Linked DNA regions of Homo sapiens: region 2 is linked to region 1. Evidence: fine-mapped QTL for protein levels in blood plasma. Region 1 holds a variant in brackets. A gene starts in the other region. All regions are shown on their forward strands. Region 1 overlaps CCDC26 (CCDC26 long non-coding RNA). Region 2 holds the start of DRAXIN (dorsal inhibitory axon guidance protein).

Evidence for each region. A credible set is the group of variants that fine-mapping cannot tell apart. PIP is the chance, under the fine-mapping model, that this variant and not a neighbour inherited with it causes the effect. The UK Biobank Pharma Proteomics Project read protein levels with antibody pairs (Olink). The fine-mapping took linkage between variants from a reference panel, not from the people measured, so its PIPs are less certain.
Region 2: it holds the start of DRAXIN, and the variant in region 1 is the best candidate, but not a certain one, in a credible set for the plasma level of the DRAXIN protein (UK Biobank, PIP 0.61).

The regions. Positions count from the first base shown.
Region 1 is chr8:129,585,507-129,588,414 of GRCh38, forward strand. All of the region lies in intron 1 of CCDC26 (CCDC26 long non-coding RNA), which reads right to left. Among named protein-coding and RNA genes, the nearest start is that of CCDC26, 93 kb to the right of the region's middle. RefSeq lists an enhancer at 1,218-2,417. The variant C/T (reference allele first, on the strand shown) is at 1,495.
Region 2 is chr1:11,690,218-11,693,125 of GRCh38, forward strand. DRAXIN (dorsal inhibitory axon guidance protein) reads left to right here and starts at 1,493. Exons shown (of 7, transcript NM_198545.4): 1 at 1,493-1,636. It also overlaps a transcript of MAD2L2 not described here. RefSeq lists enhancers at 1-300, 301-808.

The DNA of each region.
Region 1 (2,908 bases):
CACAATGTTAGCACCTGATCGCGATCTCATATTAGGTGTGCTCAAGGATTTGAACCATTGTGGAGAGGTCCTTTAAGTAAATAAATGTGGAAGTAGGGAAATCTCCTTACAGCAAAAAGCTAACAAACGAACGTGGAAAGGATGATGGAAATAGAAAACAACAATTTGGCAAACTTCAAAATAGTAATCAATTCAGGATAAGAATCATCAATGATGATAAAACTAGTAGCTTAAAGTATGAGGAGTAACAGAAATTTCACATAATAAAGTACCTCTTAAGATACTTATTAATTACAAAGGGAAAGGTTGGAAAACGCCTTTACGGCAGCATTTACTGTAACTGGCAGACACCATCTTCACCAAATAAAGTCAACATCACTAATAATGAGGGAAATTGACATCATGTGCAGCCTGATAATAATGAATGAAAAAGGACATAACATCACTTCTATGATATTCCAGCTGAAAATGTATGACCTGAATCTAACCATGAGGAGATACTGGAGAATCTCAGATTAAGAAACATTCTGCAAAAATCTCACCAGTACTTTTCTAAAATGTCATTGTCATAAAAGACAGAAAACTGTTCCAGATTTAAAAAGATGAGACACTAATAAAGTCAATGTGTGATCCAGTGTTTTCTTTTACCATATAGCATAAAACTGGAACAATTGGTGAAATTCAACTGAGGTCTGTAGATTAGGTAATAGTTTTGTATTAATGTTAATTTCCCAGTTTTGATGATTAACAATAGTGCTTATGTAACAAAATGCATTTTCAGAAAGTACACATCGAAGTCTTTAGGGATAAAGAACATTATGTCTATACATTTCAAATAATTCAGGAAAAAATATGGCATTATATGAAAATATATGGTATCATATAAAAATATATGGCATATATAATAGATGGTACATATATATTAAATTAAGTAAAGTTGGTAAATTATTAACACGAGGGAAACTCCTTGTACTATTCTGCCAATGTTTTAAAAAGTCTGAAATTTTGTCAAAATAAAAAGTTAAAAGCAGTAGCAAGAAAGAGGTACAATGTGGATAACTTTAATCAGCCCAGAACCAACACAAAGCATAGCGAAGAGGTTTGGCTGCACTTTCCAGAAACTCCAGATGCCAAACATGTTTCACCCATTTTTTTATCCCTGTCTTCCAGGCTTCTGATATTCATGACAAGATGGGAGATGATACTAAATGGGCCCATTTCTTCAGTGATGGTTTCCCATAACTAAGCAGTGTCGTTAGAACCACCTATATTATTGCCGAGCCAGCTGGAGTCTTAAAAGTTTATTTCCTAGAACACATAGTCCACATAATCTCTTCCATTACTGCTGGAAGGCAGCAGGGTACCTCTCCTGTAGTGCCTCATGCCACCACAAATAGATCATGCAGAAATCAGGTGGCAATGGGGTCTCTCCTGCTATTTGCACCATATGATGGCTGTTTGTTGTGCTGGACTCTTCATTTGCCACTTGAGCCA[C/T]GGTGTTCAGCTCCTATCCGCCCTGGAAAAAAACACTGGCAAAGTCAGCTGGGCCAGGATGCTTTGCATTTTGAGGAATCATGAAATGGCCAGTCCCAGCTAATGGATAAAAGGTAACTCACCATCCCCACAGTGACCCAAGGACTATACTGGACAATAGAGACAAAAATGCATCCCCTCCTCCCAACTGGTGAAGACAATCTAGAGACAGTGCAAGAGTGCTCCCTTCTGCCCAGAGCTCAAATTGCCCTAACTTCACACAGTTTCACCTCAAGAGAGTTTGAGATGAACCCTTCTGCTTCTGGAGCACACATCTTAAATGCTATCCCATAGTCGCCCCTTAAGCCTGCACTTAAGATTTCACCTTTATGATCTCATTTCATCTCTTCAACAACCTCAATAGCTAAGTAGAGCAGATATCATCACACCCTCTAACAGGTGATTTGAAACAGGTGCCTCAATAGTAAATTACTTACCCAACGTCAGGAAGACTCCCCACAGAAAGCCTCATCTCCGTATTTAAAATTCAGTGGCTGCAAAGAATGGCTTTAAATTCTCCTGCACCCCGAAAAGTATAGGCAAGATTCTGCAATTCTGGGTCATCCTCAGTGATGAAGGGGCTGGGGAGGAATGGAAAACTGGCAGAGGGACTATCTACAGTCATTATAAGTCAATACAGGCTTTATTAGCTTTCCTGTTGAGATCTGACCTACCTAGCGCTATCTTCTTGGTTTCTCATGAATCTACTGTTCTTCACTACCTGCCCTCAGTAGGAGCTGCCAGAATGGAAATGACTATCAAATCTGAAGAGAAAACAGACGAGACTTGTGCCACAGAGAGCATCGATCCAGGACTACGGGGTTCAAGGCTCTCAGCTCACTCAGACCATGGGGGTAGGGAAGAGGAGGGGAGGACAGGTGCTTCTTCAGGTACAAGTGAATTTCCTATCCCTGGAGTTTACAAGCAGAAGCAAGCATAGTAATCCCACCTCTCAGTCTGCACACCTGAGAAACACACACATTTGTTTGCACAAGGAGCCACATACAAGATTCTTTTTACAGTAGGAGAAAAAAAGAGATGACAACAATTTATCAGTAGAGGAATGGTGAAATAAACCATGATATATCTCCATTAATCAATACTAATAATCAGTTAAAAGAAAGAGGTATATTTGTACATAATTTCAAGAAAAAGTCCAAGTGATATAATAATGAGAGATGAAATTATTTGATTTATGTTAAAACATATACATACCAAGGTACCCAAACATGTATATAAAGATGTAGATAAAGCTTTAGAAAGCTGTGCACCAAAATGTTAACATGGGTTTCCTCTGAGAAAACTTCAGGGGTTTGGAGAAAACCTCCTAAAGGAGACTTTGGCCTTACCTGTGATATTTTACGATATCACCTTA
Region 2 (2,908 bases), not on the chromosome of region 1:
TCCATGTTGTTTACTACTGTACCTCCGGTGCCGGCACATAGTAGGTGTTCAATAGGTATTTATGGGATGGATGACTCAAACCTTTCAGTGAATAAACAGTTCAGTGTTCTCATCAATCCATCCTGGTGCCCACCAAGCTAATAATATCACGGTAACAATGGCAGCTAATTTTACAGGAGCATTTCCTATGGGCCAGACCTTAGAAACGTTATCTCCTTACACAGGGCACTGCATTCACGCCTAGAACACTGAAATTTAGGTATAATCATGAGCTCAGAGGTCAGGCGACTTGCTCGAGGTCATAGGGGACGGCATCAGAAGAGGAACACAGACATTTAGCCTGACGGCAGAACTGTGTTCTAAAACCTCAAAGTCATAATTTGCCACACGCTGGAGAAAGAAAACAGTCGAAATGGAAGCCACCTGGCGAGCTCAGGGCGCCAGGTGGGAGCGCTGCTTCCCACATATGGGAGTCCGGCCCCATCGCTCTTTGATCTTTGCAGCGTCCGTGGCCCCACCGACCCCGTCGTGAGTTATGGGAGGCACGGGACCCATAACCCAGCATTCTCAGACTCCCAGGGTCGTCAGGACACGGCGCCCCGCGCGGTGATGGATGAGCCGGCCCCAGCGCTGGCTTTGTCCGGGTTGGGCCGGTCTGAGAAGCTTCAGGCCGGCTTTGGACGGGGCGTGGCGAGAGCCGCGCCGCGTGTGAGTGTGTGTGTGTGTGTGTTTGTGTGTGTGTGTATTGGGGCGGTTGTCTTTCTCCCTTCCCTACCGGGAAAGAGGGCACAGGTGCGCCGTCAGCGCCCCAGGTGAGCTGGTAGCACTTTGAAGACCCTTTGTACCCCTACATCCAGGAGCGACCTCTCGGAGAACCCCGCCTGCCCACTCTGCGCACTTTCTGCGGCTACAAAGGCCCCGCCGTTCCCCGTCCCGCCTCCCCCGCCCTGGGCATTTCTTCCGTCCCTTTTGACAGTCTAGGCGGAATAATCCTTTTGTGGCCCCGGGCCCCTGCCCTGACAGACGCGGCCGCAGCTGAGCGCGCAGCCTCGCTCCATTGTTGGGGTCCACCGAGGACCGCCCGCCGCGGCCCTTTGTCGCCCGCCCTGCGCGGGGCCGCTCCAGAGGCGCCACAACTGCCGGAGCCCCTCCCGTCCCACGCGCCCTGGGCCGCGCCGAGGCGGCTCTTACGCACCGGGAGGAGTGGGCCTGCCTCGCCCGGTGCCCGCACGGCTGCTGGGCTGCGCCCGCCTTTGTCTGCCTCCTTTGTCTGCCCCGCGCCCTCGCGGCGGCGGCGCCTAGGCCTCTGGGGAGCTGGCCCAGAACTCAGAGCGCAGCTGGCGAGGGCGCGCTGGCCGGGTGCGCGCCGGGCCCGGCCCCGGGGCTGCCCCTCGGCTGGGGGCAGTCGAGCCCGCCACCCGCCGCCCCTCCTCTGTCCCCTCCCCGCGCTCCCGCCCCCTTCCCTCCTGCCCGCCCACTCCCCCTTCCTTCCAGTCCCGCTCAGCCCGGGCACATCCTCCGGCTGCCCGCGCACCTCTCCACGCCGGCCCCGTTCCGCGGCTCGCCCTCGGCTGCGCTCGGCTCCCGCGGGCGCTCGGCCCCGAGCCCCTCCTCCCCCTACCCGCCGGCCGGACAGGTAAGGCACGGCCTCGGCCCGCCCCTGGCTCCGCCCCTCCCGCCCCACCTGGCTGCGAGCCCGGACAAAGGTGGGCTACCTGGCGCGCCCAGGGGCGGGGTGCGCGGGGTCCCGAGGCTGGAAGTGAGGATGCTGCCTCCTTCCCAGCCCTCGGACCCGTCTATCCGCCAGTCCTTCCGCCGCCTCCTCTCCTCGCCGCGTCTGCCCACGGACCCTGGCTCTGCTCCCGGGCTCCCCATCCGTCCACCTACCGCTGGACGCCCACTTTTCCACGCTCTGACACTCGGCCTCGCGCGCGCCCTCGCCGCCCTCTGGGGTCCCGGCTCGCACCTACTCTCCTCGGCACTAGCCTTCTCTCTCCCTGACCCAGTCTCCCTTTGTCTCTCTGTCTCTGAGTCTCCGGGTGGTCTCTCAGGCAGGGGGCCCCAGTCCGCCACCGTTGGAAGAAGTCTTCGAAGACTCCCTGAGCCCCGGGCAGAGCTGGCGGGCGTGCCCTCCAGCCCCTTTCGAGGCCGCCCAGGAGGCTGGGGTGTGTGGCCGGGGTCGCTGAGTGCGCCCGGAACCAGCACCGCCGGTGGCCCCGCGCCGTCCCATCTGTGCCCAGGAAGGTACTCAGCCTGGCTCCCCCGACGGCGCTGGTCTTTCGCCTGTGGTCTCCCGCTCTGTCCCTCCTGCTCCCCACCGCCGGCTTTTGGCTTTTCTCCGTCCGCTCGTCAAGGGTCTCAGCCGCCTTCGGGGCCGGGGTATGAGATGAGAGAGGGCTGGGGTTTCCCGCCAAGTCTTTCTTGCTTTCCTCAGCTGGGTGCTCCCTGGGCCATCCTCTCCGCCCGGTGGTCTCCCCTGCCCTATATGCTCCCTCCACGCTGCCCACCTCCCAGCCCAGTGACACACTGGTGTCTGGAACCGGTTCAGTACTATGCATCTGGAGTCGGGTACACTGGGGCTCTGGGAGTGATCTCGGACAAAGGAATGCACCTCTCTGAGCCTCAGTGTTCCTGTCACAAAACAGGGATGGTGCTAGTCCCTACCTATAGGGATGTGTGTGGAAATTGTGGGGTGCCGCTTGGTGCTGGTTCACACACCCTGTGGAGGAAGGGAGGGGAGGGGAGGGGAGTCTACAGACCTGGGATGGGGTGGGGACAGGGGGCTCCACAGAAATGGATCTCAAAGTCAAGGCTTAGAGACACTTCAGAGTAACCCCACCACCACAGCCTCTTCCCCCATCACACTTCCTGTCACCTTCACCTCCTCGTGCCCATACAGGCGTCCACA